Regions from separate parts of the Homo sapiens genome. Here all the other regions are linked to region 1. Evidence: fine-mapped expression QTL. A gene starts in region 1. Each other region holds a variant in brackets. All regions are shown on one strand. Distances are from middle to middle.

Region 1 (8,104 bases):
TGGAAAACATATCAGCATTTTTTCATGGACTAAGTGTGGAGGGAGGGTTGACTACCCAGAGACAGGAGGAAGGAACGTTTGGTTAATGACACTCTTCAGTGTCTTCACAGTGGTTGTGGGTATATAATTATATACAACTCTCAAACCATATCAAAATTGCATATGATAAAGAGTTAATTCAACTGTATCTAACTTTAAATAAATTAAAAAATTTAAAACACTGGATGCCACTATGCTCTCACTAGAATTGTTCAAATATAAAGCAGGACAGTATCATACGTCGACAAGGGTGTGGAGCTACTGGAATTCTGGCACATGGCTAGGAGGAGTGGTAAAAAGTCAAAACCATTTTGGACAACAGTTTGGCAATTCCTACTAAGGTTAAACTTACAAGTAGTCATTAGTCTGACTATTTATCTTCCTGTGTATACCAATTAGTATAAAACCATGTATGTAAAAAGACTTGTACCTGAATACCTGTAGGGAGAAAACTGGAAAATCCTTGTCTATCAATAGGTGAGAAATAAAACATTATAGTATACACATAAATGGAATACTACTTAACAATATCACATTTTGAAATACAGACACAAACAACGTGGTTCAGTTTCAAAAAATATTATGCTGGGTCATAGGATACAGACACAAATTAACACATCTCTAGGAGATTTTCAAATAGACTAACTCACAATGAAAGAGGACATATCAGTGGTTGCCCAGCATAGAAGGTGGGAAGAAAAGCCCTTGGCATACTAGAAATGCTGTATATCTGCAGTGTGGTGAGTATACAGGCTGTACATACTCGTCAAATCTCATGCAAATGTGAACTTCAAGTAGGTGTGCTTTATTTCATGTAAATTATACCTAATTAAATTCATTAAAGAAACACAGTAAGACTCACATATTCATATTTGATCTTCTGGTCCATGAACATAGTATGACTTTATTGTTAAAACTAAATGTGGCTGGGCACAGTGCCTCATGCCCATAGTCAAAGCACTTTGGAGGTCGAGGTGGGAGGATTGCTTGAACCCAGGAGTTCAAGATCAGCCTGGGGGAACATAGCAAGACCCCATCTCTCCTAAACATAAAAACAAAAAGTTACTCCGGCCTGGTAGTATGAGCCTGTGATCCCAGCTACTAGAGAGGATGACGTGGGAGAGTCACTTGAGTCTGGGAGGTCAAGGCTGCAGTGAACTGTGGTCAGGCCGGTGCACTCCAGCCTGGGCAACAAAGCAAGACCCTGTCTTAAAAAAAAAAGCACTAAATGTATTGAATTTTCTATTACGTGCCACATGCTAAATATTTAAATAACTTACAACAGATATTATTTACTGGAGACTTAATTTGTTGTATATCAAATGAGGATGCAGCTACCTCTCTATTAGTAAGGATGAATGAAGAGTTATCTAGATACTATTGTGTGTAGAGATTTGACAAAGGTATGGTGGCAAGTACTAATATGTCCCAGGGATCAACGGTTTGCTGGATGCATACTACACAGAGTGATATGGAAAACCATGTAGCTGGACCTAAAGTTTAATTTTCTCTGTACACTCCACTCATGTTGTCTGGAAATATTATGTCTTTGGGCCATATTTAACTGTGAGAAGCAGATTTTTACATGAAAGAAAATGTTGATCCATATGATGAGCCTCTAAAAAAACTTGCTTCTGCCCACACTGAACCAAATGGCAGCATGAATGGAAAAGAAGTTTTTTCTGCACTGGTTCATAGAACATGTGTTCTCCCTTTTGTTTCACAGGAAGATGCTGCATGGTTCTTGTTTTGGAGATGTCATTGACACTGTGCAAATCAGTGTACTAGGTGCCAGGGGAAAATTCTATAGTCATATTTCTTTTAAAATTTCCAATATGCTACCATGATACATGGCAAATTCCCAACTTTTCACAGCTCTAAAGCCAGACAGCATGTGTGTGTGTGGTGAGGACATGAGGCTATGGATGGGGAGTATCTTAAGGGCAGGAATCAGGTCAGTGGCATCTCTTCTCAAGCCCCACCTATACACAAAGGCTCACTGTAAGAATTAAAGAAAGAGGAAAGAAACACGAATGGTGGCTCACCAGTCAAGACAGATTTTAGAGAAAACAAACCTGAGAGGAGTTTCTGGCCGAGTTAAGTCAGAGGCACACTCTCTTACAGACTAAGAGTTTTTAAGGATTTAGGGTGGGAGAGTTTATCAGAGACTTGGACTGCTTCTGAGTCTCTTTGTTGTGCTTATCTGGGAGAGAGAGGTGTGTGTCTGTACCCATACATCTTTCTGCAGCTACAGGCATACCCACTGAGTCTGCTTTTAGCTTCCCTATCTTAGTGCACCTGAAGGGAAAGGAATTTGCTTATTAAGGCCCACTGTTTTACTAGGGCCATTGTATGAGGGTGAAGTTTGGCAGTAACTCAAGAGACTCTCCCCCTACCTCCCTCTGTGCCCGAGCTGTCTTATCTGTGTTTCACTGTCTGCTCTTTCTGGTTGCTTGTAGTTAGCAGAGAAGTGATTTCCTTGAAATGCATGAGGCTAGAAAGGAAATTGGAACTTAAAGAGGCAGTGTTTCTCCGAGATGACGGTGCTCCTGCTCTGTCACTCACTATATCTTTAGTGAATGAATGAATAAATGAATGGCTGCCACCTTCACTTTACCTAGGACTCTTCTTTGTTTCTCTGCCCCAGACACTCACACGGACCCTATAGAATCCTATATCCTGCTGGACTAAACACCCCATGGATCTAGGTGAGGCTGCGACTCGGGCCAGGCCAGCAGTGATCAGCCCTGGTGTAAACAGTTGTGCACAGAAAAGCACCTCAGAGTGGAAGGACTTTAGACATGGGGTTCGCATGTCTCAGATGGCCCTGAAGGTACTGATCCAGGCTCTGGTGCTCCTGGAAGGCAAGACTCAGATTCTGCTCCATCTCCTCCCATCTCTGGGCGGGTCTCTGGCATCTCTGGCCCATGAGGGTCAATCTGTGTGGAGGGGACAAGCTCTGAGCATGTGTGGGTCTGAGGTTCCTCTTCCATGCAGGGCTGAGGTCTCCTGCTCCTCCCCAGCTTCCTGTCCGGCCCTGTAGTCCTTCCCCTCCACTCCCTTCCTCTTTTCTGCTCACACAGGAAGCCCTGGAAGCTGCTTCCTCAGACATGCCGCTGCTGCTACTGCTGCCCCTGCTGTGGGCAGGTGAGTGGCTGTGGGGAGAGGGGTTGTCGGGCTGGGCCGAGCTGACCCTCGTTTCCCCACAGGGGCCCTGGCTATGGATCCAAATTTCTGGCTGCAAGTGCAGGAGTCAGTGACGGTACAGGAGGGTTTGTGCGTCCTCGTGCCCTGCACTTTCTTCCATCCCATACCCTACTACGACAAGAACTCCCCAGTTCATGGTTACTGGTTCCGGGAAGGAGCCATTATATCCAGGGACTCTCCAGTGGCCACAAACAAGCTAGATCAAGAAGTACAGGAGGAGACTCAGGGCAGATTCCGCCTCCTTGGGGATCCCAGTAGGAACAACTGCTCCCTGAGCATCGTAGACGCCAGGAGGAGGGATAATGGTTCATACTTCTTTCGGATGGAGAGAGGAAGTACCAAATACAGTTACAAATCTCCCCAGCTCTCTGTGCATGTGACAGGTGAGGCACAGGCTTCAGAAGTGGCCGCAAGGGAAGTTCATGGGTACTGCAGGGCAGGGCTGGGATGGGACCCTGGTACTGGGAGGGGTTTAGGGGTAAAGCCTGTCGTGCTTAGCGGGGGAGCTTGACCAGAGGTTGATCTTCTCTCAGGCCCTCACCTGGACCCTCCCTCCTGATTCTGCATCCCCTCTTTCTCCTCACTAGACTTGACCCACAGGCCCAAAATCCTCATCCCTGGCACTCTAGAACCCGGCCACTCCAAAAACCTGACCTGCTCTGTGTCCTGGGCCTGTGAGCAGGGAACACCCCCGATCTTCTCCTGGTTGTCAGCTGCCCCCACCTCCCTGGGCCCCAGGACTACTCACTCCTCGGTGCTCATAATCACCCCACGGCCCCAGGACCACGGCACCAACCTGACCTGTCAGGTGAAGTTCGCTGGAGCTGGTGTGACTACGGAGAGAACCATCCAGCTCAACGTCACCTGTAAGTGCTGGGCCAGGATGCTGGGGTCCCTGAGGGTGTAGGGGAGACAGGATGGGCTGGTGCTGGGGACATTTAGTGTCCTGGAGGCCTGGCTGAGTTCGGGAGCCAGAAGGACATGAGCCCTGTCCCTTCTGCATTTCTGTGGTTTCTGGCAGGAGTAAGGGGAAATGCCTACCCTTATCTCATCTCTACCCCCAACTGAAGGAAATCCTCTCTTCCTCTCCTAGATGTTCCACAGAACCCAACAACTGGTATCTTTCCAGGAGATGGCTCAGGTAGGAAGGAGCCTCCCCGCCTGGGGCTGTTACTGACATTGAGTCTGTGTCAGGTTTGGTCAGATCTGGACTTTCAGAGTCAAATGTTCAGAGGCAAGGCCTGCAGTTAGACACGGGTAGACATCAGGCACCTTGGAAAAGGATATTTGGGGATGACTAGCAACTTCCCCCTTGCCCATCCAAATAATGCTCTTTGTCTCCCTCCTGTCTCTGAATGTCTTGGGGTATTTTATTTTTAATTGATATGTAATAATAGTACATATTTATGGATGGCATAGTGATGTTTCCATACTAATAATGTATAGTAATCAGATCAGGGTAATAGCATATCCATCATCTTGAACATTTATTATTTCATTGTTGTTGGGAACATTCAATATCCCCTTTCTAGCTATTTGAAGCTATCTATTATTGTTAAGCATAGTCATCCTACAGTGGTATAGAACACCAGAACTTATTCTTCCTTTCCAGGTGTAATCTAGTATCCTTTAACAAATCTCTCTCCTTATCATTGTTCCCCTAACCTTCCCAGCCCTTATTATTCTCTGTTCTACTTTTTACTTCTATGAAATCAACTTCTTGTAGCTTCCACTTATGAGTGAGAACATGTGGTATTCAACTTTCTGTTCCTAGCTTATTTCATTTAACATAATGTCCTCTAGTTCAATCTATGTTATAGTGAATAACAAGATTTCATTATTTTTTATGGCTGAATGATAATCCATTGTGTATATACGCCACATTTCCTTTATTTATTCATCTGTTGTTGGACACTTAGGTTTATTTCATATCTTCCTATTGTGGATAATGCTGCAATAAACATTGAGGTGCAGACGTTTCTTCAATATACTGATTTCCTTTCCTTTCTATAAATGCCCAGTAGTGGGGTTGCTGGATCATATGGTAGTTCTATTTGTAGTTTTTTGAGAAACTTCCATACTCTTCTCCATAGTGGTTATACTAGTTTACATTCTGGTCAAAAGTATATAAGAGTTCCCTCTTCTCTACATCCTCACCATCATTTGTTAATTTTCATCTTTTTTTTATCATAGTCCTCCCAACTGGGGTGATGTTACCTCATTGTGGTTTTGATTTGCATTTCCCTGGTGATTGGTGACGTTGAGCATTTTTCATATACACTTGTTGGCCATCTGTATATCTTTTCTTGAGAAATGTCTACTCAGATAATTTGCCCATTTTTAAATGAGATTGGGTTTCTTTGCCATTGAGATGTATGAGTTCCTCGTATGTTCTGGATATGAATCACTTGTCAGATGAATAGCTGACAAATATTTTCTCCTATTCTGTAGGTTGCCTTTTCACTCTGTTGGTTGTTTCCTTTCTGCATAGAAGCTTTTTAGCTTGATATCATCTCATTTATTTACTTTTGCTTTTGTTGCTTGTGCTAGTGAGGTCTTACTCATAAAATATTTTTCCAGACCAATGTCCTAAAGCATTTCCCCTATGTTTTTTTCTAGTATTTTTTAAATTTTGTGTCTTATATTCAGGTCTTTGATCCATTTTGAATTGATTTTTGTATAGGACGAGAGGTGTGAGTCTAATGTCATTCTTCTGCATATGGCACCAGTTTTCCCAGCATCATTTATTAAAGAAACTGCTCTTTCCTCAATGAGTGTTCTTCATGCATTTGTCAAAATTCAGTTGGCTGTAGATCGTGGATTAATTTCGGTGTTCTCTATTATGTATTATTGGTGTATGTATCTGCTTTTATGCCAATATCATGCTGTTTTGGTTACTACAGCTTTGTAGTTTTGAAATCTTTAAATTTTTGAAATTTTGAAATTTTCTAGTTTTGAAATTTTGAAATCTTGTAGTGTGATACCTCCAGCTTTGTTCTTTTTTGCTTGGGATTGCTTTGACCATTCAGGCTATTTTTAGTTCCATATGAATTTTAAGATTGTTTCCTCTAATTCTGTGAAGAATTACATTGATATTTTGATAGAGCCAGGTTTGAATCTGTAGATTTCTTTGGGTAGTATAATCATTTTAGCAATATTAATTCATCTGATGAGTAAGGAATGTCTTTCCATTTGTTTGTATCCTCTTCAGTTTATTTCCTCAGTGTTTTGTAGTTTTTCTTATTAAGGCTTGTCACCTCCTTGGTTAAATTTATTCCTAGGTATACTTCATTCTCTTATAGCTATTGTAAATGTGATTGCCTTCCTGATTTATTTTCAGCTAATTCATTGTGTGTAGAAATGCTACTGATTTTTGTATATTGATTTTGCATCCTGCAAATTTACTAAATTCATTTATCAGTTCTGAGAGTTTTATTGTTAGAGTCTTTAGGTTTTTGTTTTGTTTTGTTTTGTTTTGTTTTGTTTTTGAGATGGAATTTCACCATGTTGGCCAAGCTGGTCTTGATCTCCTGGCCTCAAGCAATCTGCCCACTTTGGCCTCCTAAAGTGCTGGAATTACAGGCATGAGCCACCACGCCTGGCCAAGTCTTTAGGTTTTTGTATGTTATTTGCAGAGACAATTTGACTTCCGCCTTTCCAGTTTGGATGGTTTTTATTTCTTTCTCTTGCCTAATTGCTCTGGCTAGGACTTTCAGTACTATGTAAAATAAGAGTCATAACAGTGGACATCCAGTTCCTAGAGGAAAAGATTTCAGCTTTTCTCCATTCAGTATGATGTTAGCCATGGGTTTGTCATATATGGCCTTTTTTGTGTTGAGGTACTTTCCTTCTATACCTAATTTATTGAGAGTTTCTATCATGAAACAATATTGAATTTTAACACATGCTTTTTATTCTGCAACTATTTAGGTGATCATACGGTTTATGTCCTTCATTCTGTTGACATATGTATAACATTTATTGATTTGCATATGTTGAATCATTCTTGCCTTTCTGGGATTAATCCCACTTTATCATGGTATGTTATCTTTTTGATGTATTGTTGGATTTGATTTGCTACTATTTTGTTGAATATTTTTGCATCTATGTTCATCAGGGATATTGGCCTCTAGTTTTCTTTTTTTATTGTCTCCTTTCTGATTTTGGTGTCATGGTTATGCTGGCCTTGTAGAATGAGTTAGGAAGAGTTGCCTCCACTTCAATTTTTTGGAATAGTTTGAGAAGAGTTGGCATAATTTTTTTTTCTTTAAAGGTTCAGTAAAGTTCAGCACTGAAGCCATCCAGCCCTGGAATTTTCTTTGTTGGGGGGCCTTTTATTATTCATTCAATCTCATTACTTGTTGTTTGTCTGCTGAAGTTTTCTATACCTTCTTGATTCAATCTCGGTAGATTATATGTGTCCAGGAACTTATCCATTTCTTCTAGACTTTCAAATTTGTTGGCATATTGTTCATAGTAGTGTCTAAGATCCTGTGTATTTCTGTGGTAACCATTGTGACATCTTCTTTTTTATTTATGATTTTATTAATTTTTATGTCTTCTGTCTCTTTCTTAGTTTAGCTAATGATTGTCAATTTTATTTATTTTTCCAAAAAGCGAACTTGTTCATTGATTTTTTTTTAATTTCATTTATTTCTGCTCTGATCTTTATGATTTCTTTCATTGTGCTGATTTTGGATTTGGTTTGTTCTTGCTTTCTAGTTTCTTGAAATGCACAGTTAAATGGTTTACTTGAAATTTGTCTAATTGTTTGATGTAGGCATTTATTTCTCTCAAGTTGTCTCTTAAAACTGTTTTTGCTGTGTCCCATAGGTTTTGGTATATTTTATTTCTATTT
Region 2 (8,104 bases), 21 kb after region 1:
GTTTATACCTCTTCCTCCTCCTCCTCCCTTCTCCTGGCTCCCTCTCCTCTGGGGACTGTGAGCTCCACTGGCCACAGTATGAAATACCTCAAGGCCCAAGTACAAGGTCTTCTCCAGCATGAAGCATCCTTCAACTTCGCACTACCCTGGGACGAATCTGGAACTCCCTCCTCTGGGATCCCACAGGCTCCCATCCATCTCTCCACCACAGCTATACTCCCAGGATCTAGAATCTGTTAAAATTGTCTTAACGAAGGCAGCAGAAGGCAGCAATTAAAATTTTCACTTCCTTCACAGTAGCCAAAAATTGGAAGCAACCCAAATGTCCATCAACTAATGAAGGAATAAACAAAATCTGGTACATTCCTGCAATGCATATCATTCAGACATAAAGATGGGCCGAAGTACAGATACATGCTACAACGTGTATGAACTTCGAAAGCATCACACCAAGTGAAAGAAGCCAGACACTAAAGATCACGTACCATATGATTCCATTGATATGAAATGTCTAGAATAGGAAATACATTTCTGGAGGCAGAAAGCAGGTCGGCGGTTGCCAGGGGCTTCGAGGAGGGCAGTGACTGCTTAGTGAGTACATGCTTTCCTTTTGGGGCAATGAAAATGTTTAGAACCAAACAGAGGTTGTGGTTACACAACGTTGTGTATGTACTGAATGCCACCGAGTTGTTCACTTTAACATGTTCATTGTATGTAACGTGATTTTACATCAATAAAAAAAAATAATAATTTAAGCTTTCAAGTCAGATCTCCAGCATCTGAACACCTGCCTCACCACTGAACCTCCTGCTACTTCCATTTGCTTATCTGTTAAATGGGGATAATAGCACCACTTAGTTCACTGGTTCATCCTGAGGATTCAATGAATCAATGCTTGACAGAGTGGCTGGTGCATGCCAAGCCCCCAGCTCTTGGGGGCTGGTCAAAGTGAACTCAGCCACTAGCCAAATTCTTCAAGGTAATGATTCGATTCACTGAATGACCTGCAGGTTTCCAGCTATATCCTTGTGGCGCCAGGCTTTTCACTTGCACCCTGATTACATGGCTGACCCTGTGGTCACAGGGAAAACTGACGTGCAAGATAGTAAAAGTGAAGTATAAAGTCTATTTTTTTTTTTTTGAGATGGAGTTTCGCTCTTGTTGCCCAGGCTGGCATGCAATGGCACGATCTCAGCTCACTGCAACCTCCGCCTCCTGGATTCAAGCAATTCTCCTGCTTCAGCCTCCCAAGTAGCTGGGATTACAGGCGCCTGCCACCACACCCAGCTAATTTTTTGTATTTTTAGTACTGTCAGGCTTTCACCATGTTGGCCAGGCTGGTCTTGAACTCCTGACCTCGGGTGATCTGCCCACCTCAGCCTCTCAAAGTGCTAGGACTACAGGCATGAGTCACAGTGCCCGGCCATATAAAGCCTATTTTAAGTCTCCATGGCCAGAGTTTTGTTCCACTTCTCCCTTTCCCTCTTCACCCATTCCTGTAAGTCACCAAGTTCCTGGCCTGTCCCCTTCCCCTTACTCTCAGATCCAGGTCCCATCTTGACTCCTCTTCCCCAGAACATGGCAAAAGCCTCCTCCCCAGCCTCTGGGCTCCAGTCCCACCCCAACCAGCCCATCACCAAAACCATCAGCAATGGGAGCTTTCTAATACTCACCTCTAACCCTGTATCTTTCTTGCTAAATATCCTCCCATGCCTGCCTCTTTGCCTCAAGATGATGTTCTGACTCTAGTGAGAGTTATTCAAGCTTTTCCCAGGCCAGGAACAGTGGCTCATGCCTGTAATCCCAGCACTTTGGGAGGCTGAGGCAAGAGGATTGCTTGAGGCCAGGAGTTAACACCAGCCTGAGCAACATAGAGAGACCCTGTTTCTACAAAAGCAAAGAACAATTAGACAGGTGTGGTGGCACGCACTTATAGTCCCAGCTACTTGGGAGGCTGAGGTGGGAGGATCCCCTGAGCCAGGCGTTCAAGGTTATAGTGAGCTAGATCACGCCACTGCACTCCAGCCTGGGTAACAAAGTGAGACCTTGTCTAAAAAAAAAAAAAAGGCCTGGTGTGGTGGCTCACGCCTGTAATCCCAGCACTTTGGGAGGCTGAGGCAGGGAGATCATAAGGTCAGCAGTTTGAGACCAGTCTGGCCAACATGGTGAAACTCCGTCTTTACTAAAAATACAAAAATTAGCTAGGCGTGGTGGCATGCACCTGTAGTCCCAGCTACGTGAGGGGCTGAGGCAGGAGAATCACTTGAACCCGGGAGGCAGGGGTTGCAGTGAGCTGAGATCGCACCACTGCACTCCAGCCTGGGCGACAGAGCAAGACTCTTTCTCAAAAAACAAAACAAAACAAAACAAAAAATAACTTTTTACAATCTCACCCTCAGCTACCACCCCTCACACATCTCAGCCACATCCTAGAGATTGCATGTCCCTCTGTGCCTCTCCATGCTTCATTCATGTGGTTCTGTCTCTTTGCAATATTGTCCCCTGCCCTCCTTCTTTGCAGCACACACTCATCCTTTGAGAGCTGGTTCAAACATCACCTCCTCAGACAAGCTGCATTCCCTACCCTGTCCCCTCTCCCAGCCCCTGTACTTTCCCACAGCTTGGATTAGAGCAGTTTATCAACTGCTGTTGGTGGGCCAGTTCAGGTTCTTGACTTTGCGGCACAAAAGAATTTGAGAGCGAGTCCAAAGTAAGAGTAGGCAAAGAAGTTTATTACAAAGCGAAAGTACACCCTGAGAGGCAGAGGGAGGGAGAGACAGCCTCTAGCATCTCAAGGTAATTCCTTTCATGGGAACTATACATACATATTCATAAAATATTGGTGAGTCCAGCATGAAAGGCATGCACTCAGAATCTATGTGCTCTAACACGCATTGCATGTATCATTAGCATATAAAATCTCCACCTAGGGGTGTATTTTCTACTATTCAAATGAGGAAAAGGTCACTATAAGCTAAACTTTGAACATAGCTGCACACGCAGAGCCCTGGAGAAGTTCCCAGCTCCCCCAAGGCAGGAATTTGTAGCTCACAGCTTCTTGGGTTTTTGGTGTTGATTGGCTGGAGACTGGGGAAACTACACCATGAATAAGTGGCTTTTGTTCTCTTT[C/T]CCAGGCCACATTAACAGGAACTTGCAACCATCTGGTGGTCTGCTTGTATCCTGTAGGACTGTTTATCTTGCAAGAGTTAGGTGCTGACTCACGAGAGTGAAAACCAAAGAATCTGCTTCGAAAGGGATCCATGGGGCTTTGCGCAAGGATACAAGTGAGTATGGCCTCCTAACCTTACTTATCCTGCCTCACAACCTCAACGATATTCATATTCTGGCATTTGGGGCTGGATAATTCTTTGGTGGTGGTGGTTAGGGGAGGGTGTGGCAGGTCAGGTCTCCCTAACCGCTGAACAGGCAGGCCTCCATAACAACTGTCTCAGCACTGATTGAGTGGTTAAGTTAAATATTAAAAGCTGACAGAGCCAGTGCCCTCATACAAAGGCTGGAATGTAACAAAAGCCCACCAAGAATTTTGCCCAGGCCTTTTCTGGGCCTTGAGCATAACAAGATAATGAAGGAATTCTTAACAGGACCCGTTTAGGATTAAACAAGTTTTATTGGGGGGTCTGAAGAAACTCCTCTAAGCCTCCACAAACAAGTTTATTGGGGGTCTGAAGGAACTCCCCAAACCTCCATGATTTAGCAGGAGACAAGATAAGGGTAATCACCCCAGCACCTGGACCCATTTAGTTTAAATAAATTTACTGAGGCTACAGAGGAAGATCTTCAGGACTGACATCTTAGTTACAGATTGGAAGAAGTTAATCGCTTACGTCCAGATGAATGCACTCTTACATGTAGACAAATAGCTTAGAAGGTATATGAGCTCTGGAAAACTTTGTAATTTTGAGTTGGTCTGGCAATATTTTCCAGATCTTCTCCCTGTGCCCAGTTACAGAAATAAACTCCCTTCTCTCCCAGTTCACCTGCATCTTGTCATTGGGCTAAGAGAATAAGCAGCCTGACCCTTGGTTTGGTCCAGGAACAAGGGTGCATGGTCAGATGTTGAGCAGCGTCTCTAGGTTGTACACACAAGATGTCAGTAGCTCCCCTAGTCCAGTTTTGACAACCAAAAAAGGACTCCAGATATTGTCAGGTGTCTATCAGGGTGCAAAAAAGCACCAAATTGAGAAACACTGAACTAGAGCCTTCCTCCTCTGTATTCACATAGATACTTGAACAAAATGAACTTTCTCTAGTTCTTCAAGTTCACTACGAAAACCACTATGTTGCCCAATTTCTTTTTTTTTTTGAGACAGAGTCTGGATCCATCACTCAGGCTGGAGTGCACTGGTGTGATCTTGGCTCACTGCAACCTCCACCTCCTGGGTTCAAGCAATTCTCCTGTCTCAGCCTCCCAAGTAGCTGGGACTACAGGTGCCTGCCACCACGTCCAGCTAATTTTTGTATTTTTAGTAGAGACGGGGTTTCACCTTGTTAATCAGGCGGTCTCGAACTCCTGACCTCAGGTGATCCACCCGCCTCAGCCTCCCAAAGTGTTGGGATTACAGGCGTGAGCCACCGTGTCCGGCCGTTGCCCAATTTCAAAACAATTTAGTGCATTTGAAGAAGTTTATCGCAAAGCAAAAGTACACCCTGAGAGGCAGACGGAGGGAGAGATAGCCCCTAGTGTCTCAAGGGTCTCAAGACCCCCAGTAAAACTTGTTTAATCCTGAACGGGTCCTGTTAAGAATTCCTTTGTTATCACATTTATGAAGACGGTCTTGAGAAATCCTGAGGTTCTAATTTCTTTGTTTTCCAAACTTTTCCTGCATGCCTACTACATGCTACACCAATACAGGAGTTAAGAAGGAATTACTTAGGCCCAGAGCAAGGGCATGGGAGTCCTTGGTAAGGCTTTTCTTTTTAATGAAAAGCAGCCCCAAATCAGTTTCTAACAAAGAGCAGCCTGCAACCTGGGAGCTTGCATGAGTGAATGACGGCAGGAACTAAGGAATGGACATTTTCAAGATGGCCGCTCCATCTTCCCTTCTCTGTCACGTGCTGTAAGGAGCAGACAAGGTGGCACTGATCAACTGGAAAGTCCATTTGCATAAGAAGATTAGGGTGGGGTTACCAGCCTTCCTTGTGTGCTATTTAAACATTATACCCGATCAAACCAATCTATGAGCCTTATGTGAATCAGACACCACCTCCTCAAATGGGACTATAAAATTTGCAGCATTCACCACCAGATGGTCTTTTTTTCCGTTCCAAGACCCCTTCCTCTTTAGAGGAAGCAGTTTCTCTTTCTCTTCTCTTCTACCCATTAAACCTCCACTCCTAAAATCCTCGTGTGTTTCTGTGTCCTAAATTGTCCTGGCATGTGCCAGCGGAACCCCATGTTTATACCCCAAGTAACCTAGCTGCTTCAGCTCCTCCAAGAACATCAAAAGGAAGAAGATACAGTCCCTGGCTCATATGAAAATATAAACTTAGACACATTAAAATTTTAAAGAATTTATTTGAGCTGACATTCATGAATCCAGAAGTGCCAAACCACCTAGTGGGCACACAAGGAAAACTTTTATAAGGTATTCCTGGAATCAAAACAAAGAAAATAGTTTCATTTGGTTAAAGGGGAACGGTAGCCTTAAAGTTTGTAATTAGAGGTCAACTTGCAGTTTCTGATTGGTAAAGTCTCTACTTAGAGGTTAGTAGGCAGTTTCGATTGGTTAAGCCTAAGTTTCATTTTTCTAGGATATGACCATTCACTTTGAGTTAGGTTTGAATTTGCTTACTTGGAAACAAAGGCCTTGGAGCCATCTCAGCCTAATGGCTTCCCAGTTAGTTATTTTGACAATTGGGAGAGCTCAAGTTCATGGGGTAATGTTTGGGAAAGGGACAGAAATAGGTAACTTACTGAAACACAGTATGATAAGGTTCCTATAAAGATGGCAAAGGATATAAATTATGGGGATAATTATGGCCTAGGGTCTGGGGACCCAAGGGCAAGAGCTTTCAGGGATGGGAAAGAAGTTAGAAAAGGCTTCTCAGAGGAAGCCCCTTTCTAACTGCACCTTGAAGGGAAAGCAAGAGCCAGCAAGCAGAGAAGCGAGGAAAAGCAGTTTAGGTACTGATAATATCAATTACAAAGCAAGGAGGTAGAAGAGGGGCTGGCAGATGTTTAGGTAATAGCAGTCAGTCTGCTACAGCTAGGGTAAAGGGAACAAAGTCAGGTCCCCTCTCGGGAAGTCTATCTGGGGCCTGCTCTGCAAGCTGTAAGGGCCATGGAGTAAGGCCCTGGAGGGTGAACATCATCCTTCAGTCTGTCACATTAAAAAAAAAAAATCTGCACATAAATAAGGCAAGATTTTATCCAAAACAATTATTCCAATAAAGGGAGAAGAATCTTTGCAGCAGTGGAAGGGGAACTGCTGCAACAGGGAGGTGGAGACTGTTGTAATAGGGAGTGGAGGTCTCCCATGTACCATAAAACAAAACCAAAAAGTGAGCTTCTATTCTAGTGGCACAGTCAAACCATAAACAAAAATACCATTAGCAAATGATATTTAGCACAAAGTGTTTTTGTTACAGGAAAGGGGTTCTGATCCAGACCCCAAGAGAGGATTCTTGTATCTCTTGCAAGAAAGAATTCAGGGCTATTCCATAGAGTAACGTGGAAGCAAGTTTATTAAGAAAGTAAAAGAATAAAAGAATGATTACTTCATAGAGCAGCCCCGAGGGCTGCTGGTTGCCCATTTTTATGGTTATTTCTTGATGACATGCTAAAGAAAGGGTGAATTATTCATGCCTCCCCTTTTTAGACCATATAGTGTAACTTCCTGACGTTGCCATGGCATTTGTGAACCGTCATGGTGCTGGTAGGAGTGTAGCAGTGAGGATTACCAGAGGTCACTCTCATTGTCATCTTGGTTTTGGTGGGATTTGGCTGGCTTCTTTTTTTTTTTTTTCCTTTTGAGTCAGAGTCTCACTCTGTTGCCCAGGCTGGAGTGCAGTGGTGCAATCTCGGCTCACTGCAACTTCCACCTCGCGGATTCAAGCGATTCTCCTGCCTCAACCTCCCAAGTAGCTGGGGTTACAGGTGCCTGCCACCACGCCCAGCTAATTTTTGTATTTTTAGTAGACAGGGTTTCGCCATGTTGGCAGGCTGGTCTCAAACTCCTGACCTCAGGTAATCCGCCCGCCTCAGCCTCCCAAAGTGCTGGGATTACAGGCGTGAGTCACCGAGCCCAGCCTTGGCTGGTTTCTTTACTGCAACCTGTTTTATCAGCAAGGTCTTTATGACCTGTATCTTGTGCTGACCGCCTATATCATCCTGTAACTTAGAATGCCTTAGCCCTCTGGGAATGCAGCCCAGCAGGTCTCAGCCTCATTTTACCCAGCTCCTATTCAAGACGGAGTTGCTCTGGCTCAAATGCCTCTGTCATTTTGAAAGTGTAATGGGTAAGAAAGTGCGTGACGGATAAAGTGTGAGAAAAAATAAACAGGGTTAAACAAGAGGAACGGAGTCCTCAGGGTTGGAGAGGAGTGTGGTTTCATCAGCACGGGCTGGAAAGGCCTTGCTGGGAAGAAAATTGGCCCACAAACTACCCTGGCACCGCCCCCAGCTGCGGATTGGCTCAAGCCCTCAAGATCCAATTGGGCACAAAGGTTGGAGGAGGGAGTTGCAGTTGCAGTTCCTGATTGACTCTGGCAGCCGTGCATCAGCTCCCAGGGGCACACGCCTGTGGGCACAATGCTTCTGCTTCATTGATTGGCTGTAGAAAAAGCTCATGCAGCCTCTGATTGGCTATAAAATAAGCCCATGCAGCCTCTGATTGGCTGCAACATAAGCCCATGCAGCCTCTCATTGGTTGTAAAATAAGCACATGCAGCCTCTGATTGGCTGTGTAAAGTAAGCCCATGCAGCCGCTGATTGGCTGCGGGTGGATGCACTCACCTAAGGATGCGAGCTAGCAGGTCTTGCAGCGGCTATCACGCCCCTCACGCCGCTATCTCTGTGCAGCCGACTGAGGATCCCTAGTCGCATAAGGCTGTGCCTGGCCTGTTGGCGTCCCTGGCAGTTGTT
Region 3 (8,104 bases), 83 kb after region 1:
CCAACATGGCGTGACCCTGTCTCTACAAAAAAGTTTAAAACTTGTCAGGCATGCTGGCATGCATCTGTAGGATATGCAGGAAGCTAAAGTAGGAGGATCACTTGAGCCCAGGAGATGGAGGTTGAAATGAGCCAGGTTTGCACCACTGCACTCCAGCTTGGATGACAGAGCCAGACCCTGCCTCAAAAAAAACAAAATAGTAAATGCCACTTCTATGGGACAATTGGGTTGGTTTTACTAGGACCACTGCATCAGGTAGGAGAAAAAAATGAGGTTATATCTGGAAGAAAGAAAAAAATATATAGTCATTATAGCAACTTGGTAAGAATTGCATAGCCACACCAGCATTCTCCCTACCCCCACTTTCCCAGGTCAACCAGAAAACAGGAAAGTCTAGTGGTGACGCTCCTCTAGTCCCATCAGGTTGAGTGTGAGCACACAGGAGGGCATGTAAGCCAAATCTTCCTGTTTTTTTTTAAATTTTTATTTTTATGGGTACATTAAAAAAAATTATGGCTACATCCTTCATGCTTTTATCTCCCCTGTTTTTGACAACCAAAGTTTTAATTGCTCATTCCACTTCTTGATCAAATTATTACCCAAAGGACAGCTCTCTGCCCATTGCTGGACATTATGGGCTAGACAGTGTGTTCCTTGGTCGGAAGAAATGACGGCAGCCTGTGCAAATGTGTGTAATATATTCTGTTCTGATTCTTTTACAGCACTCTGAGCATTTGCATCTTCCACTGGGTAAGCAAAGGCCAGCCCAGAGTCAGCGTCTATTCCTGTCAAGACCCATTTGTAGCCCCCCAGGGCTACCAGCATCAGCCTCACTTGCCAGCTGTGCTTGGGACCTTCCCACCAGGGAATCTGGCCCATAGCCATCTGCAGCTTCTGTCTCTCCTGCTGGCAAACAGAACAGTTCTTATTGGCATTATGTGCCTGAGAGGGTGCAATAGAAACATATTTAGATTCAGCCCATCTCTGCACTGCTGCAGTGCCCTCATGTCCTCTCATTTCATGCACCCAGGTGGCCACCCAGTGAGCACACAGGGATATCTGCTTGTCGATTTCAATCACCTTCCAGACCTGGAAGAGAGCTCTTCTGGTGGGCATTGACATGTCCTACCTTAAGGACCCCTCAAATTTCCAAAGGGCTGTGTGTGTCCCATATGGACATCCCTTTAATAGGCTAGGTTTCCATTATCCACCTGCTTGACTATATGGCCAAGCCATTGGCCACTGCCTGTGAGTCAGTAAAAACCCACACGGAAGGGCTTTTACCACTGTTCAATTCTTCAGCATGCAATTCAGCTCACTGGACGGATTTGTTTTTATCTTCTTTGATCAGAATGGCATCCTTCTAAATAGAACGTGGTCTTTTCATCTTGGCACTGTCATCTGCACACCAAGCAGCTCTTTGTTGGCTAGTTGAGAGCTGTTTATAGGGCACTGTCCAAGTGGCAGTAGGATCCAGCTGCTCCCCATACGCTTCCAGAGTCAGTCCGAGGGAGAAAGAGGCTCCTTTTTTATTAGTATCTCCTCCTTGCATTCCCTAGGTAGCATGATCCTGTATAAATCATTTCTAATTTATTAGGGGACTCTTCTGGGCATTTTAATCTCCATTAGAGTGTTTTTAAACATAATCCAAGAGATTATTGGTATTTCAGGCTTCAAGATCATTTTATGTCCTCAGTCATAGGGGTAGCTTGAATTAATATCCCATAGAAAGTAGTATTATGCTCTTCAAATTGAAATTCTGTAGTCCAGAGTCTCAGTAGTTGTCACTGGAAGGTGCTTATAGGCTGTTCCCATAGGCCCCAGTCTGGGTTCCATACAGGGCTCTGTCTCAGAGAATTTGTCCATAGCATCACTCTGTCTTCTATTCTACATTTTGTGGGCTCCAGAGATCTGACTGGTTCCTATTTAGCATGTCCAATTAATATTGATTAAAGGCAGATTTACATGGCTTTTGTTTCATAATGCTAGGTATGGGAAACATTTCCCAGTCTGATACAACATCCATCCCCATAATATAATCAGGTAAAATCACTTCAGAGAAAATGTGTTCAAATATACCAACTCTCCTATAAAGGTTTATCTTAATTCCACCAACCCTCACTTTCCTAACTGTAGCCTCTATTAGAACTTTATCAATGGTTTTTGGTTTCACAATACTACAACCCTTAAATTTTTACATTCTCTCAATCTAATCCCAAGTCAGGACTTCACCAATGGATGTTGGTACCATAGTCAGTGGACCTCCCATATCAAGGAGTCCCATGAATTTCTCTTCTGCATCCCTGATCATTTTGTCCACTTGTGTACATAAGGCTTTAGGTCCCCATCAGGGCGTTGAGCAAAAGAACTCTTGCTTGTTGGTTAATCTTTATCTTGATTAAACTGCCAGACTATTGCCCCAGAAAATTTCAGATCAGATGTCTTATTTTAATCTTTGCTTTCTGACTTTTAAAATTTCTCCAAACTAAGGTAAATACAGCAAACTTTTTTGGAACCCTTTAATGTTAGGGAACCAACAAGTACTCCCTTTGGCCCACCCAACCTTAAATAGTATTATATTAAGACTTTTGTTCTAACTCCATCAATTTCTGTTTTACTCATCCCACTTCTGACACCAAATCTGAGGCTATAGGGAAGACAACCAAAGTGCTTTTTCTATTCTCTCACTTAACAATCAACACTTCTCTTTTGATTGGTGTCACCAAGAATTGTGTAGGGATTTCTCCCCACCAGCAACCAATTAATCAGTTCTGCAGTGGACACGAATTGGGTGTACTCCAATTCAATCCTCATACATCTACCTGGACTTCACAGCAGATCCCACAAGTTGAGGGCTTGGTCCCACAAGACTGTCCCCCACTTCCAATGCCAATTGTAGGCTCCAGGTTCTTTACCTGTGCTTCTGACTGACCAGCTATAAATTGGGGTTCCATAACACCTTTCTCTTCAATTAATTTTTTAGAGCAGCTCAAAGAACTTAGAAAAACACTTATGCTTACCAGTTTATTATAAAGGATATTACAAAGGATACAGGTGAAGAGACGCACAGGGTGAGGTGCAGGGGAAGGAGAATGGAGTTGCCATGCCCTCTCCAGGCATGCCACCTTCCAGGAACCTCCGTGTGTTCAACTGTCCGGAAGCCCCCTAAACCCAGTCTTTTGCGGTTTTTTAATGGAACATTCATTACATACGCATGATTGATTAAATCATTGCCCATTGGTGCTCCACTTAACTTTCACTCCCTCTCCCTTCCACAGAGGCTGGGAGATGAGCTGAAAGTCCCAACCTTTTAATCATGCCTTGTTCTTTCCTGTGACCAACCCCCATACTGAAGCTACCTGGGGCTTGCCAGTGGACGTAGCGGGGGTGTTATGAAGACCAAATATATATTTCACAGTATCACACATTTATAGCTCTTGGGATGTAAAAAATTCTCCATGTCTCTTTGTCCTCACCTGTGAAATAGGGATAAAGATAAGTGCTGCCTCAGAAGGGTGTCATGATGCTTCAAGGAGATAATATGTACAAAGTGCTTAGAAAGATCCCTACACC[G/A]AGTAAGCACTCATATTTTATCAGGCATGGGATGGGCCATTTCAGGAAGAGGGAGCTCCTGTTCTCATCCTAAGTCTGAACGGTCCGGAATTCAAAGAGGATCAATAAATGGCCTTTCACCAGGATCACAATGGATTTTGTAGAGTGGTGGGCTGGCAAGCTGATTCAGTGTTCACCATTGCTGTGGTGTAAATCCTCCCAACATGGCCAGTTTCAAGCTAATAATGGTTTAACACCTGGCTTGCACAATTTCTGAAAATTTAATAATCAGCTCTTTTGAGCCAGTGCAAGCCACCTGCAGAACACCATTAACTTTTGCATCACCCAGTTTTGTGAACGCAGGCAGGTCTCTTCCTCCCTCTGTATCTTACTTCCCTCCATCTCTCCAAACGGAGCTAAGCCATCCGACTCACTCATGCAGTACGTATTTATTTGAGTACGTACTACATGTCAGTCACTAGGTTGGGCTCTGGAAATCCAGCCTTGAACAAAAGCAGACCAAAACAAAAACAAAAAACTCCGTGAAGCTTACATTCTGGAAGTGGGAGTAGGGGGAGAGCAACTAAAAATAACAGTGAAAGAAGGAAATCGGCCGGGCGCAGTGGCTCACACCTGTAATCCCAGCACTTTAAGAGGCCGAGGCGGGCAGATCGCCTGAGATCAGGAGTTGAAGACCAGCCTGACTAGCATGGAGAAACCCCATCTCTATTAAAAATACAAAACGAGCCGACTGTGATGGTGCATGCCTGTGATCCCAGCTGCTCAGGAGGCTGAGGCAGGAGAATCACTTGAACCCAGGAGTTAGAGGTTGTGGTGAGCCAAGATCATACCATTGCACTCTAGCCTGGGCAAGAAGAGCAAAACTCTGTCAAAAAAAAAAGAAAGAAAGAAAGAAAGAAAGAAAAGAAAAGGAAAAGGCAAAAGAACATTGTTAGTGCTATGAAGAGGTATGACGTAGAGTTATTGTGCTGGGAGTAGCAGCTACTTTGGAAACTATGATCAATGAAGGCTTCTTAAAGGGGAGAAGATGAGCCTTAAATAAGAAAGAGTCATCTGCCAGTGTGGTAGGAAGAGCATTCCAGCGAAAGAACGGCAAGTACAAAGACCCTGGGGCTGGAATTGTTCGGTTTGTTTAAGGAATGGAAAGAAGGTCACAGCGAGCTGAGTGATTGAGGCAGGGAGTGGCCCTAGCTGGTCCAGGTGTTTAGTGGTGGTTGTTCTGAAGGTGGAGGCAAAGGTAGAGGCCAAGAGAGTAGAGCATAGGCTGCTACAGCCAGAGTCCTACAGGGAGAGGTGGTGAAAGCTCAGACCAGGATGGGAGAGTAAGAAAAGGACAAAGCAGAGATTTGTTTTGGAGACAGAGCCAGCGGTTCTTGCAGACAAATTGGATGTGAGTGGAGGGGGAAGGAATTGAGGATGGATATGTTTCTGAGGCAGAACAGCCCCTACTGGGTAACTTCAAAAGCTCCTGCCTTGAACTGCTACAGAAATAACGTAGACTCAGAGATTATTTTGCTCCTGCGTATGCCAAGGGGACGGGAACAGGAGGGTGGAATACACCTAGTAAACAGATGCAAAGTGGAAAGGGGAGGGAGAAACTCACTACAGGTTTTTGAGGTGCTGGCTGGAGCCAGGAGCTGCTCCAAGATCTCTCATTCTTCTCAATAACCTTGGGCAATAGGGAATTTTCCACCTTGCAGGGGAAGACGCTGAGGTTCTGGGAAGAGAAATGGCTTGTCCAAGGTCACACAGCCAAGTCAGTGAAAGAACAGGGAGCCAGGATGTTTTGCACCTAAACCCTGGATTATGGTTTCCTCCCCACCTGCTCCCCCAAGATAAGTCCCCCAATCCCTTCCCATTGCCTTATTATACTGGGGATGAGGGTTGGGGTGGAGGAAAAAAGCAAATTTCACTCCAAAAGTCAGTGTTTTCGTTATCCATGAAAATAGATGGAAAAGCTGAACTGTGGCCCACAGGAAGAGGGGCCTGGGGGCCTGGCCTCCTGGGTCTGAGGGAGGAGGGGGCTGGGGGCCTGGACTCCTGGGTCTGAGGGAGGAGGGGCTGGGGGCCTGGACTCCTGGGTCTGAGGGAGGAGGGGCTGGGGGCCTGGACTCCAGGGTCTGAGGGAGGAGGGGCTGGGGGCCTGGACTCCAGGGTCTGAGGGAGGAGGGACTGGGGACCTGGACTCCTGGGTCTGAGGGAGGAGGGGCTGGGGGCCTGGACTCCTAGGTCTGAGGGAGGAGGAACTGGGGACCTGGACTCCTGGGCCTGAGGGAGGAGGGGCTGGGGACCTGGACTCCTGGCTCTGAGGGAGGAGGGGCTGGGGGCCTGGACTCCAGGGTCTGAGGGAGGAGGAGCTGGGGGCCTGGACTCCTGGGTCTGAGGGAGGAGGGGCTGGGGGCCTGGACTCCTGGGTCTGAGGGACGAGGGGCTGGGGGCCTGGGCTCCAGGGTCTGAGGGAGGAGGGGCTGGGGGCCTGGACTCCTGGGTCTGAGGGAGGAGGGGCTGGGGGCCTGGACTCCTGGGTCTGAGGGAGGAGGGGCTGGGGGCCTGGGCTCCAGGGTCTGAGGGAGGAGGGGCTGGGGGCCTGGACTCCTGGGTCTGAGGGAGGAGGGGCTGGGGGCCTGGACTCCTGGGTCTGAGGGAGGAGGGGCTGGGGGCCTGGGCTCCAGGGTCTGAGGGAGGAGGGGCTGGGGGCCTGGACTCCTGGGTCTGAGGGAGGAGGGGCTGGGGGCCTGGGCTCCAGGGTCTGAGAGAGGAGGGGCTGGGCCTGGACTCCTGGGTCTGAGGGAGGAGGGGCTGGGGGCCTGGACTCCTGGGCTGAGGGAGGAGGGGCTGGGGGCCTGGACTCCTGGGTCTGAGGGAGGAGGGGCTGGGGGCCTGGACTCCTGGGTCTGAGGGAGGAGGGGCTGGGGGCCTGGACTCCAGGGTCTGAGGGAGGAGGGGCTGGGGACCTGGGCTCCTGGGTCTGAGAGAGGAGGGACTGGGGCTAGTCTCCTAGGTCCATGGGAGGATGAGATTGGGACTTGAAGGAGGAGGGAGCTGGGTTTTAGGAAGTATCCCAGACTCCGTGTTCTGCGGATGTGGTGGAAAGACGTGGGGACGCCTGGGGCGGGAGGGGTAGGGGCCGGGCCGCAGTAACAAAGGCCTCTCCCTCCAACAAGCAACCCCCCCTTGACCCCGCCTCCCCGGCCCCCCACCTCTCCTGATTGGCCGGTCTCCCTGCCCGTCAGCGCCGCCCCCCTCCCCGGGTCTGCAGCAGCTCCAGCCGCCTCGTCGCGCCCCCCCAGCCCCCTCCCCCCGCCCCCGCCGCCCCCCGGGCCGGTGCAGCGCAGGCGGGGTCCCCCTCCCCCTCCCCCCTCTCCCCCCAGGCCTCGCGCGCCCCGGACCGGCCCCCCCTTTCCCCTCCCCCTCCGCGCCGCCTCTGCCGCGATGCCCCCCCCTGCGCCCGGGGCCCGGCTCCGGCTTCTCGCCGCCGCCGCCCTGGCCGGCTTGGCCGTCATCAGCCGAGGTACCGCAGCGCCGGGGGCGGGGGGCTCGGCCGGGACGCCAGGGTCTTGGGTGGGTAATCGGGGGATCAGGGGTGGGGGTCGAGGGCTGCATCCCTGGGCCGGCGCGGGGAGGCCCCGGGACGCCGGGGTCTGGGCCCGGGGGTGGGGTCTGCATTCCCTGGCTGGGCAGGGGGACCTCGGACGTGGGGGTCCGCGCCCCGGGGCAGGGGTCGGCGTCCTCGGGCCGGAGCCGGGTCTAGGGGCGGAGGTCTGCTTCCCCGAGCAGGCAAGAGGGTCGCAGACACCTAGCCCTGCCTGGGGGCAGGAGTCTGCGGCTCCTGTTGAGGAGGGGGCAGACACTGGACTCGGGGTCCCCGGGTCGGATCTCCGAACTGAGTTGGGGTGGGGGGCAGGGGATAATGCCCTGTTAGGGGTCTTCATCTGTACGTGGAGAGGGTCCCTGAAGAGGTCCTTGCCGGGGGCTGGGGTAGTCATCTCGGGACAGAGGTCAGGGGATGGATGCCTTCCCAGGGTCAGTAAGAGGAGGGGACAAGGGTGTCCACAGACCTAGTCCCAGGGTCAGGAAAAGAGGGGAAGGGTCTGAAATCCCCCAGCAGGGTCATCTAGGTTGAGAGAAAGTGTTGGTACTTGGGGAGGTTGCAGTTATGTGGGGGAGAAGGGAGCTGGAGATACAGGAAGTTGGGGTGCTGGGCTGGGGTCTTGGATTCCCAAGCTCTGATTGAATGTCTAGGTTCGTGGGGCTGGACAGTGGAAGAGCGATGGGCATGGGAGGATGAAGGAAAGACGGAAGGGAAGGGTTAAAGCAGGTTGAAGGGTTAACCCCGGCCCGGCCCGGCCCTCCCAGTTGGGGAGAGGGCCAGGGGCAGGTTTCTGCACTGAGGTTAGATAGCTGGACCTTGAGTCTCCCCAGTAGGGCCTGGCAGGCAGGGGGTGGTCAAGGAGATTCCTAGATTTCCCCCTAAGAAAAGGGAGGAGAGTGCAAGGAGGCAGGAGGCTGGAGGGTGGGCGCTCAGGAGGGC
Region 4 (8,104 bases), 42 kb after region 1:
CTACAAAAATTATTTGGCCATGGTGGTGAATACCTGTAATTCCAGCTACTCGGGAGGCTAAGGCAGAAGAGTCGCTTGAACATGGGAGATGGAGATTGCAGTGAGCCGAGATCGAGCCACTGCACTCCAGCCTGGGCGACAGAGTAAGATTCCATCTCAAAAAACAAAAATAAAACAAAGAATAAAGCAGACATGACACTGAGGCTTCACAGACAATCTTAGTTGCCTCCCTGTCCGTACGTGCTCATGAGCCTCTCATCCCATATAATTCCTGCTTCTCCAGGTGAACAGGCCTTCACGATGACCAGAGACAGAAGCCCCTGACTTGGCTAAAGATACTTCTGCTCTCCCCATCCCCACATCCTCTTTCAGTTACGCATCACCTCACTCCTTCTGAACCATATGGTTCTGATGTCAGAGCCAGTGTAGTAAAGAGCTTCTGCTGTTCCTGAGAACTGTTGCTGCTGGAAGTGATGCTTCCACTGCTACAGCTGGGTAAGTAAGGTGAGAAGCAGCACTGGAGGTGTGTTTGGAAGCCAAGACTCCAGGGCCTGGGTGTTGGCAGGGCAGAGGATGGGCTATGGAGGCATGGAGAAAGAGGACATATGGGCATAAGTACCAAATAATCAACATGAATTAGACAGCTTCTGTGTGTCAGATTTTGACAGGGCTGGTGTGTCTGAAGCAAATAGCAAATTGGGCAAGGGAGAGGGATGGAGAGTGTAGGTGCTATGAAGGCATGAGAGCACTAGGAGCTGTTTCAGACATTACTGGAAGCCCTGAAGTTAAGTTTTTCAGTGTTTCTGTGGGCACACTTTGCCAGGTGGAAAAGACAATTCAGAGGACAGCCATAGAGGGGTCCGTACATGAGAGTCCCCCGCAGATTCCTCAACAGCGCCCCGCAAGTGACTCAGGTGAAGAGACCGAGATCAGGAGCTACTGGTTAGGGGAAAATTACCCCTTTCTTCCAGTAACCTCAAAAAACTTCAACGAAAAAGTGTGTGTCAACACTGAAGACAGATTCCTCATTATTAGAGACCTTGATGAATGTGACTGTTCCCTCCTAATCCATGATATTCATCAAATGGCCACCATGTCCTACCTGTTCTAAATAGAGCGAGGCAATTTCCAGCATTCTTACACAGAAGATGCCATAGTACATTTGGCTTCCAGTGAATGTTCCACCAAAGACCACTTGAGACCGGGAAGAAGGAAATTAAGAAAGGTGTTCTGTTTATTGAATGGGTAATACTTCACTACGCACTGAGCTGGGTGCACTGCAAATCTTGGGGCATTCATTCTTATAACGATGATAATATGAGATAGGTTCAGCAAATATCCCGATTTTCCAGGCTAGGAAACAGCAATGATAAGGGGAGTGACTTGCCCAGCAGCACCCAGACAGGAAGTGATGGAGGGAGAATTGGTCATAGAGCCTAAGAGGAACATTGCAGGTGGGAAGAAGAGAAGCAGAGTAGGAGGTCTGGCTTGGACTTCTAGCCTTGCAGGGTAGGTGAGGGATCACAGACAATGTAGAGCCTCAGGAAATTTACTTGCCACCCCTCAAGAAGGTCTAGCGATCAGGTTCAGGCCAGATGAGGACAGAAGATAGAGGGGAACTGGTCTGGGAGGCCTGAATCCTGTGGGCTTCCAGAAAGTCCTTCTGAAGCTCCTTGTGAATAGCAAGTAAAGAGAAGGCTGCATGCTGGAGAAACTGGAAGAGGGAAGCCAGGATGCCTTGCTGACTCCTGACCCTTCCTCCCCACAGTACCTGCTAAGCTGCTCAACTCCTCTTGCTCCTTGGAGAAGACACTGCAGTGCAGCTGTTCCTTCCATGGGATTCCCACACCCTCTGTGCAGTGGTGGATGGGAGGAGTCCCCGTGGGTGTGGATGGCATGGATGGCAGCCTCCAAGTGACTTCCACCATGCTTGGCCCCTGGGCTAACAGCACCATCAGCCTAACTGAAGAGCCAGAAATGGGCATGAGACTTCTCTGTGAGGGGAAGAACCAAAACGGAACCCATGCTTTGAGCATCCTACTGATGTCAAGTGAGGGTGGAGGGGGCTCGGTGACTGGGTGAGGACAATAAGCGGGATGGGGACAGTCACTGGGGCTAGAGAATGGAGCAGAGTTTTGGCTCCGATGCCAAACTTCTCACATGCTCTCTGCTTCCAGGAAAGAGTTCTTTGGCTGCCCAGGCCTTCGTGAAAGGGCTGATCCAGGGTGCTATCTATGCGGGAATTGTAATTGCGCTGCTCTTCCTCTGCCTCCTCCCTCTCATGTGAGTACTAGGGTTAATATTCACCCGCAAGCCTACTACCGGGCAGGCCCTGGCTGCAGCCCTGGCACAGAGAGAGCAAAGACAGGACCCCTCCCCTCAAGGAGCTTAGGGTCTAAAGAGGGAAAGATGTACCAAACATGGTCACCACAATCCAGGGCCATGAGGACTATACAGAACCGTAAAACTGTGTCATAAAACAGACACTTTGAACACATTTTATAAAGGAGAAGACCAAGAAGGGACTTGGCAGCCCTGGAAAAGGCAGCAGCGAGTCCCCGGGGTGCTGTCTGTGGTGGGCCTGCAAGGGTTCAGTACTCGTTAGCTTGGTGGAAAGTATTAATAGTACAGGTTGAGTATCTAATCCAAAAATCCAAAATCCGAAATGCTCCAAAGTCCAAAAGTTCTCGAGGCACCGACATAATGCCACAAGTAGAAAATTCCACACCTGACCTCATGTGATAGTTCAATGCACACAAACTTTATTTCATGCACAAAATAATTTTAAATATTATATAAAATTACCTTCAGGCCATGTGTATAAGGTATATATGAAACATAAATGAATTTTGTTTTTATACTTGGCTCCTATCCCCAAGATATGTCATTATGTATAAACAAATATTCCAAAATCTAAAAAAAAAAAAAAAAATTGAAATCTGAAACACTTCTGGCCCCAGGCATTTCAGATAAGGGATATCTAACCTTTGTATGCAGACGCCCAGAGGCATGTTTGAGGCATTTCCAGTGTCTTTGTATAATGTCAGGTGCATTGAGAGTACCAGGTAATGGCTAAAAATGAGGTTGAAAGACATCCTTGGTGTTGGTTCACAGGGTGTTAAAACTTAGCTGCATGTATTAGCTAGAAGCATGGAGTGGGAAGGGGTGAGTTGCAGGAAGTCAGGCCAGAGAGACGGGCAGGGGAGCCTGTCCAGACAGCTTGGACTGAATCCTCATTTCGGAGCCATGGAAGAGTGCTAAGCTGTGAAGGAAAGCTTGAGCTTGGGGTGGGACACAGATTAGAGAGAGTGAGAGCCAGAAGGTCAGAGGCCAGGCAGGAAGCTGGTGCAGGGGACTAAGCAGGAAATAGAAGGCCTGACCTGGGGCAAGTGATGAGGGGCAGCCAGAGAGGTGGGACTTGGGCATGGCTGGCTATGG[G/A]GAGACAAAGATGAGGAGTGAGGTGTCAGGGCAAACTGAGGAGCTATTTTCAAAGTATAATCAACAGGACTTGAAGACCAGTAACAATCTCTCTGCCAGTTGCAAGGCCCTTTCTTAGCTGACCTCATCTGAGCCCCACAGCCTAATAAGCAGGGTATCCCCCTTATTCAGAGTGTGAAACTAATTCCCAGAGAGGATGTGTGGCTTGCCCTAGGTCATACAGCAAGCTGGTACTGTTGTTGAGGCTCTAAATCAGAAGTTCTGGTCAAGATAGAGCCCATTTGGGGATTCAGGGAGATGGAGAGCCAGAACCAATCCAAGGCTTATTTCCTTAGAGTGAAACATATCAGAAAGAAGCAGGCGAAGAAAGCTGCAGCGATCAGAGCAAAAAAGAGCTCTAAAGTCAGAGCAAGCCAAGAACTTGAGATGTCTCTGAAGCCTGAGGAACCAGGAAAACCCGTAGTCGCCACATTTTCTGAGAGCCGGATATTGGTATGTACCTATTGTGTCTGGAATCTAGTCTATCGGAATACTGATAATAAGACCCACAGGGAAAGGAGCACACAGTGTTTTGAAGGTGTTATCATCCTCAGTCTTGCAGGATACCTAATGCTAGAGTGTGCTTTCAGGTCATTTTATAAATAGGAAGCTAAGGCCCAGAGAGGAGAAGGATGAAAGTTAAGAGAAACAATTTAAAGAACAATTAAAATCAATTTACACGCACACACCATTACATTGAATCCCCACTGAAAAGGCAGTTGGGGAAAATCCTAATAGCAGTTGTAGCATCAGAGTGGAAACCAAGGATTTGGCCTCTGAGTGTATGGCCGGCAGCAGTCAGCTTGGTGTAGATGCCACAGGCCAAGTCAGCCTGAAGTGGTTAGAGATTAGGCCAAGCCCAGGTTACTCCTTCATTCACCCTGTACCCCACATCTTCAGCAGGGCTTGGAAGATACAGTGTCCGAGGTTGCTATGCCTCACTGTTATTTACCGTTTATGATTCTCCAGAATCAGAATTATCCTGCTGCCCTCCTAACACCCTGCATGAACAGTTGGTGTCCTTTTGTAGATAAGCCATCTGTTAAATTCCACCAATATTTCCTGCAATATCTCCTAATCTTTGTGCTCGACAATGCTGGGGTCTCAGAAATGGGCCAAACCTAGGCCTTGTCCTCAGAGAGCAACTAGACTGGTCGAGAAGGCACCTTCACAGTAGGGGATGCTGAGCCAGGAGTTACGGTGGTGCAGAAGAGGGAGGGACCAAACCTACCTGAGGAAGTCAGGCAAGATTCCCTGAGGAGTCTAAGGAACAGTCAGTGTTATGGGTACTGAAGATGCACAGAGAGGACCAGATGGAGAAGACCGAGTTGCAGGCTTTAACCATGGGGTTGTGAGGAAGGGCTAAGCCAGTGCTCACTCCATGTTGCCTTAATTCTGTGCACAAGGGGGTGTCTTTTTAAGATTTGGATACCTCACCTCTAGACCTGTTCCAACATTCTTTTTTCTTTGTTCTATTTTGCACCTCGCTTTCAGGAAAAGCAAGATAAACGAGCCAGCTAAGCCTGTGGAACATGCCTCATACCTGGAGTCGCCATTATCCCTGGAATTACAAAGATCTGCAAAATTTATAGCGCTCACAGAAACCCTGGAGGCTGTAATAAACCTGGAGCCCCCTGGACTCTCCTCAGCTCACAAAACCCTCTCAATTCCTACACATCCCTTAACACTCATTCTCCATTGAATAGGTGGTTACTCTTAGACCTAGTCTTAGAACCTCTGAAGACACACTTTGTAATTTGTTGTTTGGCTAAATGAGAAGAAATCTGTGCCACCCTGGGAAGGTGTCAAAAGAAGGAAAAATACATGTGACAATATGAATCAAGTCCATCAGCAAGTTACTTTTGAGCGCCTACTGTGTGTCAGTGCCTGAGATACACCTACAAGAGCGCCAGGCTTTCAAGCCTTCATATCTGGATAGAATCCCAACTTCAGTGCTTGGTGGCTGTCTATCTTTGGACAAGATCTTTCATTCCCCATCCTTTGAACATCACATGACCCATATCTGGGTGGAGAATGGGTGAAAAGTACTGTTCAGAGATGCAGGTGAGAAAAAACATGACGATGGGCCCTGAATGCCAAGATTCATTGGAGCTTTGGAGCTTTATCTTGTAGGACCTTATCCTGACTCCCTTAGAATGTAAGTTCCAAGAGAACAGGGACTTTGTCTGCCTTGTTTTCTACTTTTATCACCAGCACCCAGAATGATGCCTAAAATACAATAAGATCTCAAGAATGTTTGTCAAATGATTTAATTAATTATAAGCTGTTTTAAGGTTTGAAGCAAGCAAGTAGAGTGACCAGATATAGACAGAAAAATCATTTCCGTACCCTGACCCCACATATGATATATTTAGAATGGGTAAGGCTGGAGGTAAAGATGCTAGTTAGGAGGTTATCGCAATAGTTCTTGGCCAGATTGAAAGGCAGGCATGCAAGGAATGGGAAAGGGATTCTGGCATTAGAATGAACCACAACTATGTATTGTTCCTCTCAGAATGGATGACAACCTCCTTTCTAGCCAGATGCTAGTAGATTTTTTTTTTTTTTGAGATGGAGTTTTGCTCTTGTTGCCCAAGCTGGAGTACAATGGTGCAATCTCGGCTCACTGCAACCTCTGCCTCCCGGGTTCAAGTGATTCTCCTGCCTCAGCCTCCCGAGTAGCTGGGATTACAGGCACACACCATCACACCCAGCTAATTTTTTATAGTTTTAGTAGAGACAGGGTTTCACCATGTTGGCCAGGCTGGTCTCAAACTCCTGACCTCAGGTGATCCACCTACCCCGGCCGCCCAAAGTACTGGGATTACAGGAGTGAGCCACCGTGCCTGGCCAGATGCTAGTAGTTTTCAGTAGGTGGAAAGAGGGTCATCTCTTCCCTGGGGCAATATTTGTGGGTAAATACAGTGATCCTGTAGCACCAGCTAGATGGTCATCTTATACTCAGGGTGGACGTTTACGTTAGCCCCCACATGTATAAGCACCTCTCACAGGCAGTTCACATTTCACAGAAATATCAGATGTGCCACCATGTGCCAGATAATGAGGGGAAGAAGTAAGACACTCACCCTGCCTCCGTGGAGTCATGGTCTACATAGACAGACGATGAAGAAATGCAGACGAATTTATAGCTTAAAATGTTGATAAGTGCTAGAAAGAAAACAGGACAGAATACTATGAGAAAGCACAGGAAAGGAAGCTAGGTTGGATTACAGAGTCAGAGAAGGCCTCTCAGAGAAAGTGACACTTGCCTTGAGACCTATAGGATTATTAGGAGCTGGCTAGACAGAGGGAGCAGTAGATCCTAAGCTCTGACATGAGAACAGTTTGGTGAGTTCAGGAGCCCAGAGCAGGCCGCTGTGACTGGAATTGACTGAGGGATGAGCTCCTGAAGGGCCAGAACTTGCAGGCCTTCCAGGGCTCTAGTGGGAAGTTTAGGTTTTGTCCTCACTTATGGAGGGTTATTTCCTCTTATGCTTTGTAATTCTGGAAAGTGCAGATTGTTTGAGAATCACATCCAGTGGAGCTGTGTGAGAATCCTGGGCAGCAGAGGTTTTGAGTTGAGGATAGAAGCCTCTATGTAACAGGTTTGGTGTTTGCTTCTACTAAAGATACATCCTCTGTTTGGGAGGGAGAGGCAGACAAGGCTGGGGAGAGGGAGAGTGCCAGTGTTGGGAAAGAAGAGAAAAAAATGTAGAAAAGGAATAGGAGAGAGGATAGGGATCGGGTTGGAGATAGGTCAGAGATGGGTTTGGGAATGGGAATAGAGAGGCTGGGCTTCATCGTGTGTCTTGTTTTCTCGGTGATAGGGGCCTCGCGTGCAGGACAGGAAACAATGAGTACACAGGGTGCCTTCTGACCAGCCCTGGGGTCCAGCACTAGTCATTTTGTGCCTTAGTTAATGCCTTGACTTCCCGCACATACCAGGTTGAGAGAGGAACGTCCCTTAGCAACTGATTGGCCTGGAGTCTAGAGGACTGGTGGGGGTCTGGAACCAGCTGCCCAAGGAAAACGATTCTCCCAATGTCCGGGGGACGCAGTAGCAACTGTTGCTTCTGACTAGCTCAGGCTCTGGAGACCCGCGCGCTCTCTTATGCGGCTGCGCATCCCAGCAGCTCCCGCGAGAAGGGTCAGGCCCTGATTGGCTCTGGACAAACCCGCGCGAGCTTGCGGGGCGGGGCTTCAAGGGATTGGTATCCCCGTGCAAGGAGGTTGGCGAGGCCTCAGGGGACTCCCAGTTCAGCGAATCCGTTAGCCTTCCTCTGCCTTAGTCACTTCCCCGTGAGGCACTCCGTGTTTGTGTACACGGTTATTCCACGTGTCAGTCAGTTCATCGGGCGCATCCGGAGTCATTGAAAACAGTAATAGGAAGTCAAACAAACCCGCTTGATGCAAAAATTCAGGAGGACATTCGGTTTTTAAGGAAATAGTGCTGAGGAAGGACCAGGCTGGAGCTCCTTGGACCCTGAGACTGGGAGGTAAATATGGAAAAAGAAGTGATAATTTAGGGGGAGGGAAAAGAGATCACCTGTGAAGAAAACTCACGCACACACCAGGGCCTGGAGAAGGAAGTGAGACTGGAAAGAGATCAGAATTTTATTTTTATTTC

Direction of the effects. Alleles are on the strand shown, and positions count from the first base shown. SD is a standard deviation of normalised expression in the study named. Not every link is listed here.
In carriers of allele A in region 4, the expression in monocytes after LPS of the gene that starts at base 3,111 in region 1 tends to be lower than with G alone (large effect, 2.0 SD a copy in Fairfax 2014).

Evidence for each region.
Region 2: its variant is fine-mapped to the expression of CD33 in whole blood (TOPMed, PIP above 0.99). The same link has a PIP of 0.9 or more in subcutaneous fat.
Region 3: its variant is fine-mapped to the expression of CD33 in whole blood (INTERVAL, PIP above 0.99).
Region 4: its variant is fine-mapped to the expression of CD33 in monocytes after LPS (Fairfax 2014, PIP 0.95).

Annotation. Positions count from the first base shown.
Region 1 is chr19:51,221,970-51,230,073 of GRCh38, forward strand. CD33 (CD33 molecule) reads left to right here and starts at 3,111. Exons shown (of 7, transcript NM_001772.4): 1 at 3,111-3,186; 2 at 3,249-3,629; 3 at 3,834-4,112; 4 at 4,340-4,387. The coding sequence starts at 3,150. The region is part of intron 2 of LOC107985327 (a long non-coding RNA gene); the gene reads right to left.
Region 2 is chr19:51,243,113-51,251,216 of GRCh38, forward strand. It overlaps SIGLECL1 (SIGLEC family like 1), which reads left to right and starts at 7,968. Exons shown (of 6, transcript NM_001385465.1): 1 at 7,968-8,104. The region is part of intron 2 of LOC107985327 (a long non-coding RNA gene); the gene reads right to left. The variant C/T (reference allele first, on the strand shown) is at 3,130.
Region 3 is chr19:51,304,843-51,312,946 of GRCh38, forward strand. It overlaps IGLON5 (IgLON family member 5), which reads left to right and starts at 6,802. Exons shown (of 8, transcript NM_001101372.3): 1 at 6,802-7,084. The coding sequence starts at 7,006. The variant G/A (reference allele first, on the strand shown) is at 3,574.
Region 4 is chr19:51,263,600-51,271,703 of GRCh38, forward strand. SIGLECL1 (SIGLEC family like 1) reads left to right here. Exons shown (of 6, transcript NM_001385465.1): 2 at 284-495; 3 at 1,769-2,050; 4 at 2,178-2,283; 5 at 3,774-3,930; 6 at 4,972-5,731. The coding sequence starts at 474. The coding sequence ends at 4,998. It overlaps LINC01872 (long intergenic non-protein coding RNA 1872), which reads left to right and starts at 7,667. Exons shown (of 3, transcript NR_136526.1): 1 at 7,667-7,973. It overlaps LOC107985327 (a long non-coding RNA gene), which reads right to left and starts at 7,568. Exons shown (of 4, transcript XR_007067309.1): 1 at 7,420-7,568; 2 at 6,564-6,645. The variant G/A (reference allele first, on the strand shown) is at 3,439.